Homo sapiens: one gene and its partner. The protein of the gene in region 2 interacts with the protein of the main gene of each other region in a pairwise test. Each region holds a gene or a part of one and is shown on either strand. Other genes may lie near its edges.

Region 1 (3,807 bases), on a different chromosome or scaffold from region 2:
TCTGTACAATATTTTTTACTAATCCTTTTGGGATTTTAAATTTTGTTGTTGTTGTTAATGTTCTTTTGCTTCCAATGGCTTAATGGTATCTCTTGCCTGCAGTAATTTGTTGGCAGAGTAGTAAGCTGATGTGTTATTTCTTTGGGGTCAGAGTAAGCCCCAGTATTCACATGAATTTTTCAGAGCTGCAGAAATAGAACGCTTACCACTCCCTGTCCAGGGTAATCACCCCTGGCTCAGTGAAGTTCTTTTGGGTGGAGTAAAGTAACCTCCTTGAGATCTTTAGAGAAGCCTCAGTGTCTTTTTTGATACTTAGTCTTATAGCAAGGAAAACAGAAGCTACTTTGATGAAGAGCAGTTCTCTTAGTCTAGATTAACAGTTAGGATTTTGATAATTCACAGCACAGTTGAAACAGAGGAGTTTTGTCAAAAGGTGGTGGGAGGAATTAATAGGCACTTCTACAAAGTAAGAGTAACAAAAGGAAAGTTGATGGAAACAGGCTCTACCTACCCTCAGTGTTTACAGGTTGTATGGTGGGTTAGCAAGCGGGGGAGTTGGTGAGTTTTTCATATACATCTGAAGAGCTAAGCCAGATAGGCCGTGGTATAACAGAAGAGGTGTGCAGAAACGCTTCAGACAGGAGTACTTTATTCCTAGTTACCATCGGACTGAAGTTTAAGCCAAGTTTTAAATATGGTACCAGTTAACTATAAAGATTCTATCTGAGAAATTGGCTGGACCCGGTGGCTCACGCCTATAGTCCCAGCACTTTGAGAGGCTGAGGCGGGCGGGTCGCCTGAGGTTGGGAGTTTGAGACCAGCCTGACCAACATGGAGAAACCCTGTCTCTACAAAAAATACAAAATTAGTCAGGCGTGGTAGCACATGCCTGTAATCCCAGCTACTCAGGAGGCTGAGGCAGGAGAATTCCTTGAACCCGGGAGGTGGAGGTTGCGGTGAGCCGAGATCACACCATTGCACTCCAACCTGGGCAACAAGAGCAAAATCTGTTTCAAAAAAAAAAAAAAAGATTATATCTGAGAAATTATAAAATTTTATCCTGAAATAGCACTTAGTATGGTATGGGTTTTAGAGTGAAACAGATCTTAAGAAAAATAATTTTAGATTGCGTTTAGAAACAAACTGGCAGTGAATCCTGCTAGTTTTTCTTTGTCAGCACTGATTTTCAAGAGGTCTTGTTATCATCTGATTTTGTTGTATCCTTTTAGAGTATATTCCGTGTGGTGTTCCATGACAGAAGGCTTCAGTACACTGAGCATCAGCAGCTAGAGGGCTGGAGGTGGAACCGACCTGGAGACAGAATTCTTGACATAGGTGAGTTAAGAGAATCTATTGCCTAGGAAATGCCTTTAGCTATGGACCCAGAGTTGGTTTTCTTTATTTGACATTTACCTTGATTCATATGCTTGAGAGGCTCAATTAGTATAAACCTTGAAATTATTTACTAAGCATAAAAAATTTTAAGTAATACAAGTTAAAATGATATCAAAATTGAAGTTGGAAGTGTAAACACTTTAGTTCCATAGCAACTATAGGTTGATTTTGTTGTTTTTTAAGTTGTGGTAAAATATACATTACATAAAAGTTATCATTTTAACCATTTTTAAGTGGATAGTTCAGTAACATTAGGTACATTCACATTATTGTGTAACCATCACTATCATCCATCTCCAGAACTTTTCTCATCTGCAAAACCAGAAGTCTGTACCTGTTAAACAACAACTCCCCATTCTCCCTTCTTCACAGCCCCTGGTAACCACTATTCTCCTTTCTGTCTCTATGAATTGGACTACTAAGTACTGCATAAATGAAATCATACAGTATTTGTCCTTTTGTGACTGGCATTTTTCACTTAGCATAATGTTTTCAAGGTTCATGGTATAGCATACATTAGCATTTCCTTCCCATGCAAGGCTGAATAATACTCCATTGTGTGTATATATCACACTTTGTTTATCCATTCATCCCATGATAGGCACTTAATTTGATTCCATTTCCTGGCTATTGTGAATAATGCTGCTATGAACATGGATGTACAAATATGTGTTTGAGTCTCTGCTTTTAATTCTTTTGGATACATATCCAGAAATGGAATTGCTGGGTCATATGGTAACTCTATCTTAGATTTTTTTTAGAAACCACTATATTGTTTTCCACAGTGACTACACATTTTACATTTCTACCAGCGGTACTCAAAGGTTCCAATTTCGGCCGGGCGCGATGGCTCACGCCTGTAATCCCAAAACTTTGGGAGGCCAAGGTGGGCAGAACATGAGGTCAGGAAATCGAGACCATCCTGGCTAACATGGTGAAACCCCGTCTCCACTCAAAATACAAAGAAATTAGCTGGGCGTGGTGGCGGGCGCCTGTAGTCCCAGCTACCCAGGAGGCTGAGGCAGGAGAATGGTGTGAACCCGGGAGGCGGAGCTTGCAGTGAGCCAAGACCACGCCACTGCACTCCAGCCTGGGTGACAGAGCGAGACTCTCTCAAAAAAAAAAAAAAAAAAAAGGTTCCAATTTCTCCAATCCTTGTCAACACTTGTTGCTTTCCTTTTTTTTTTTTTCCTGAGATGGAGTTTCGCTCTTGTTGCCCAGGCTGGAGTGCAATGGCGCGATATCAACTCACCACAACCTCTCCCTCCCAGGTTCAAGTGATTCTCCTGCCTCAGCCTCCAAGTAGCTGGGATTACAGGCATGCACCACCACACCTAGCTAATTTTTGTATTTTTGGTAGAGACGGGGTTTCACCATGTTGGCCAGGGTAGTCTCAATCTCTTGACCTCTTGATCTGCCCGCCTCGGCCTCCCAAAGTGCTGGGATTACAAGCGTGAGCCACCACACCTGGCCTGTTGCTTTCTATTTTTTGATAATATCCATCCTGATGGTTGTGAAGTAGTATCTCATTGTGGTTTTGATTTGCATTTCCCTGGTGATAAGTGATGTCAAGCATCTTTGCATGTGCTTATTGGCCATTTATATATTTTCTTTCTTTCTTTATTTTTATTTATTTATTTATTTATTTTTGAGATGGAGTCTCCCTCTGTCGCCCAGGCTGGAGTGCAGTGGCATGATCTTGGCTTACTACAACTTCCACCTCCCGGGTTCAAGCGATTTTCCTGCCTCAGCCTCCTGAGTAGCTGGGATTACAGGTGCCCGCCACCACACCCAGCTAATTTTTGTGTTTTAGTAGAGACAGGGTTTTGCCATGTTGGCCAGGCTGGTCTTGAACTCCTGACCTCAGGTGATCCACCCGCCTTGGCCTCCCAAAGCGCTGGGATTACAGGTGTGAGCCAAGGCTCCCGGCCCATCATTTATATATTTTCTTTGGAGAAATGTCTGTTCAAGTCTTTTGCCCACTATCGAATTGGATTGTTTTGTTTTTTTTGTTATTGAGTTGAAAGAATTTTTAAAATATTCTGGATATTAACCCCATAGCAGATATATCACATGCAAATCTTTTCTGTTATTGTGTGGGTTGCTTTTTTACTGTGTTGATACTATCCTTTGATGCACTAAAGTTTTACATTGAGGTGGTCCAATTTATCTAATTTTTTTTAATTCCCTGTGCTTTTGGTGCCACATCCAAGAAATCATTGCCAAATTCAGTGCCAAGAAGCTTTTCCCATATGTTTTCTCCTAAGAGTTTTATAGTTTTAGGTCTTATATTCAGGTCACAGGTCCATTTTGAGTTCGTGTTTGTATATGGTACAACCATATACAAAAAAGGTTGTATGGTAAACCATATACAGAAAGAAGGGCCCAACTTCATTCTTTTGCATGTGGATA
Region 2 (3,907 bases):
TGCTCAAGGCCGGGGGAAGCCAGTGCAGCCCCAAGGTGGGAGCATACTGGATGTGCTGGCAGGTGGCAAGGAGGCCGGGGTGGCTGGCAAGGAAGAAGGGACTAGGAGAGGAAAAGGGGCCTCCAGCTCTCAGAGGCCCTGACCCTGGCCCCCTCCCTCTCTGGGAGGCCCTGGCCGCCTCCCAATCCCAGCTCCGCCACACCCCTCAGAGCTTGAGAGCCCCCAGATCCTGCCTTCTATTGCTCCGGGGCTCAGATGGCCCTTTCAAGCCCGAGGCGGGGTCCGGGCCCTCTTGCTTTATGAGATTCTGGTCCTGCTGTGCTGGGGACAGATCTGGAGCAGACTCCCCCAGGCCCCGCACCAACCCGGCCACTGCTGAGGGCCTGCCCTGGCCCACTCTTCTCACTGCCCTACACCAGAGCCTCCTCGCCCTCCCATCCTTGCTGCCCTGTCCCTGCTCCAGGTTTGACACCTGGTCCTCACCACATCTCCCTGACCTCCAGGGATGGCCAGGACCCTCCACTTCTCCAGACCCCCTCCCGCCTTCCTCTGCCGCGGAGGCCCCCCTCCTCATTCTTGCCGCCTCCTGGGCGCTTTTTCCTTCCCCGATGGGATTACAGATCCTGAGGAGGATTACAGGAGATCAGAGGAGGGCTGGGCACTTAGCGGATGGGAAGCACCACTCGGCCCTCCTGCCCCTCTTCCCACAGTCCTTCCCCATTCCCACATCTGAAGGGGGGCCTCTCTTGCCTCCTCCGGGCTCCCAGCCGGTCCCAGCCCCGGGGCAGGGCTGGCGGGGTCGGCAGGGCTCCACCCCTTGCCCGGGTGCCCTCTCCCCGCCGCCCTCACCTGGATCATGTAGAGCTGGGCCACCTGGTACTCGTCCAGGCTCATGGGCAGCAGAATGTGGTATTCCTTGATGAGCATCCTGAAGGCGCTCGGCGGGCCGCGCGCGGCCTCCGCTCCTCCTGGCGCAGGGCACGGCGCGACAGTCAGTGCGGGGAGGCTGCGCGCGGCCCCGAGCCCTGCGCGCCGGCCGAGGGACTCAGGCCACGGGACCCCATGTCCGGGCCCGCCACGAGGGAGGCAGAGGCGAGCCTAGCACCGCCGCCCGCGCCGCCGGGGCCGGGAGCCGCAGCGAGGCTGAGCGCTGACCTCTTTTCCGCGCAGCCCCCGCCCCCCGCCCGCCCGTCGCCATGGCAACCGCGCGCTGACGCGGGCCCCCCGGAGCGCCAGGCTCCGGCCGGCGGGCGGGAGGGCCACCTCACCTCTCCCGCTGCGACCGCGTCCTAACCCCGGGAAACGGCATCCCTCTGGGCGCGCCCCCGAAGCCCCGGGGCCCCTCCTTCCGGGCCCGCCTTCCGCGACCGGCCCCTCGGGGACCCGCCCCTTGCATCCCCTTCCCGGAGTCGGCGGGGTCCCAAGTCCCCCACTCTCGGACGTCCACCTAGAGCTTTGTTCCCCGAGTGTCTCTGCGCGGAGTGGCCCAGTGCGCCCAGCATCTCTGCCAGGGTTCCCCACGCCCTGCACCCGAACCTACCTTCCGGGACCGGTAATCTCCTCCGCCCTCCAGATCTGCCTTCTTGGGCAGCCGGGTCCTCGACCTCCCCCTCCCAGCATCCTTCCTGGACCCCTGGCCCTCGCCGGCTCTCCACGCGCCTAGGCAGCCACTCCGTCCTCTTCCCAGGGGGTGAGCCCTCCTCAGGCTGAGGCCAGAGTGGCTCCACTTGGTATCCCACGGGCCATGGCCCTGGAGACCCGCTCCGTCCACCTGCGCCCCAGACTGGCACCGAGGTTCCGCTGCAGGCACCCCTCCATCCCCCACTCGCACCCCGCGAGCAAGCGAGAGGCCCCGTTGTCCCCACTTCCCTCTGCTCGCCGGCGTCCCGGTCCCCTGCCGCGCTCTTGGCCCGCCTGCCGACGCCCCGGCTCACCTCTAGCTTGAGGCGGGCGCCCCTCACCCAGCCCGGGCAGGGCCGGCCGGCCCGTGGGTCGGAGCCCGGAGCGCCCCCAGCCCCGGCCTCGGGTTCCAGCGGTGGCCGGACCCTCCCGAGGCGCAGTGCCGGCCCATGGCCCCGACCTTCCTCTCGATCCGCCCGCCGGCGCCCCTGCAGTCCCTCCCCGACGCCCGCCGCGTCACTGCGGCCGCCCCGCCCCCTTCCTGGGCCCGGCTGGCCCTCCCCACCCCGGCGGGGTCCGGGCAGCCCCGCCTGCAGCGGAGGAGGCAGGGAGGGAGGCCCCTGCCTTCCTTCCCCCGGGCAGTGGGAAAAAGGCCATTGCCTAAATTCTGGCTCTTCCTAGTCCCTCTGTGCTGATTGGGGTCCCCAAAGACTCTTAGTTCCTATCTCCACCCTAGCCCAGCCCTCCTGTGTGCAGTCACAGGGTGGTTTGATATGGGGGGTCCCAGGCCCACTCTCCTCTTCTCACTCTCTGCAGTCCTTAGATTTGGGACCCAGGGTTGAGGAAATGCCTCCCCACCAGTCTAGCCAGAAGCTGGTGGCTCTGACATGCCTCCACCTAGGGCTGGGCTCGGCTCCAGGGCCCCAGGCCTCTATGGTCACCCAGCTACACGCCCAGGCAGAAACGGGCTGTCACTGTGAGTGGCTGGGCTAGCCCCTGCATGGTGCCACAAAGCCTCCCCCACCTCTGCCTTCCGGGTCCACAAGTCCGGTCACCCAGCCACCCGGAGTCTGGGCAAAGGCCTCACGAGGCACCCCAAGGCTGGGTTCATGGGATCCCACCCAGCCTGCTACAAGGTGCTGGGGCAGTGACGGCAGCACCCCGCCAGCCCCTCCCCTTGACACTGAGGCCAAGTGCTGGAAGCAGCAGTGCCCTTTCTCTCTGAGAAGTCAGAGACCTTCAGGGCTGATTCAGAGGCTGGGGTGTTGTCAGGGCATTAGGGCGTGTGAGGGAGTGGCTTACGTGAACTGGCATTTCCATGCTGCCAGGCATCACCGCCAATCCAGAGGAAGCGCCCTCCAGGCCCAGGCTGCCCACAGCGCCAAGGGCTGTGGAAGCAGCCAGGCCCTGTGCTGCCCCCTGGTGGCACCACAGGAAGGCCCAGGGCTCTCAGCGCCACGGCTGGGGCGGAGAGGGCCCAGGTCCCACCAAAGGCTGATGGCCTACAGAGGCAAGTCAAACCTCATTTAATCACACCCTCCCCATCCATAGTCTCCTCTTCCCCTGTCTCTGCCTGGCCCACCCAGGCTTAGCTGAAGAACCAGACCCAGAAAGGCTCAGAGCTGAGAGCACAACTCCAAATCATCTTTTATTAATATAAAAAGGGCATATTTAGCAAAAGACACACAGATAAAAGAGTCACTATGGCTCAGGACACAAGGCAGGGAGGTGCCAGGCCTGTGCCCCTGCTGGGGGAGAAGGAGGCTCGGGACAAAGTGGGAGAAGTGCTGGGAAGGGCTGAGCGGTAGGGGCCACAAAAGTTCCGGTGGGCAACACTGTCGGCAGGTCATGGGTGGGACTCATGGGGACCTCGCTGCTAACTCTTGTTGTGGGGGGGTGTCCTTAGTGCTGCCACCTGGAGGGCCACTCCTTGGTTCCTGGAGGGGACCCACCAAGGGACACAGGACAGGAAGCCCAGGATGGTTAGTGCAACTCGGGATGAAGGCCAGGGAGAAGCGGGTGCTCTGCAGTGGCCGGATAGGTCCAGACGCTGAGGCCGAGGCGCTTCCTGTTACGTGCGGGCGTTCCGCTCTGTCTCTGCCAGGCACTCTCTGACTAGGGCCCGGGCATGGATGATACCTGGGGGTGGGGTGGGGTCTCAGCAACCCTCCACAGCCCCACCCACTGCCCTCCAGAGGAGGACCCCTGCCTCCCCACTCCCTTTCCACTTTCGGCAAAAGAAATTCAAATCTAATGACGGCTAGATGAAATTAGAGGTTTGGTTAAT

Evidence for each region.
Region 1: the proteins of PITPNM1 (region 2) and TFCP2 interact in binary tests that used the Homo sapiens proteins (3 or more experiments, as listed by UniProt).

The regions. Positions count from the first base shown.
Region 1 is NC_000012.12:51,113,843-51,117,649, reverse strand, and holds part of TFCP2 (alpha-globin transcription factor CP2), read left to right. Parts: intron 1-1,229; coding exon 1,230-1,335; intron 1,336-3,807.
Region 2 is NC_000011.10:67,503,254-67,507,160, forward strand, and holds the start of PITPNM1 (membrane-associated phosphatidylinositol transfer protein 1), read right to left. Parts: upstream 2,111-3,907; 5' UTR 1,935-2,110; intron 1,923-1,934; exon of another isoform or gene 1,541-1,922; intron 1,344-1,540; exon of another isoform or gene 1,269-1,343; intron 969-1,268; 5' UTR 928-968; coding exon 850-927; intron 624-849; exon of another isoform or gene 484-623; intron 1-483. Other genes in the region: CDK2AP2 (cyclin-dependent kinase 2-associated protein 2), read right to left, coding at 3,692-3,759. UniProt on the Homo sapiens protein: Catalyzes the transfer of phosphatidylinositol (PI) between membranes. Binds PI, phosphatidylcholine (PC) and phosphatidic acid (PA) with the binding affinity order of PI > PA > PC. Regulates RHOA activity, and plays a role in cytoskeleton remodeling.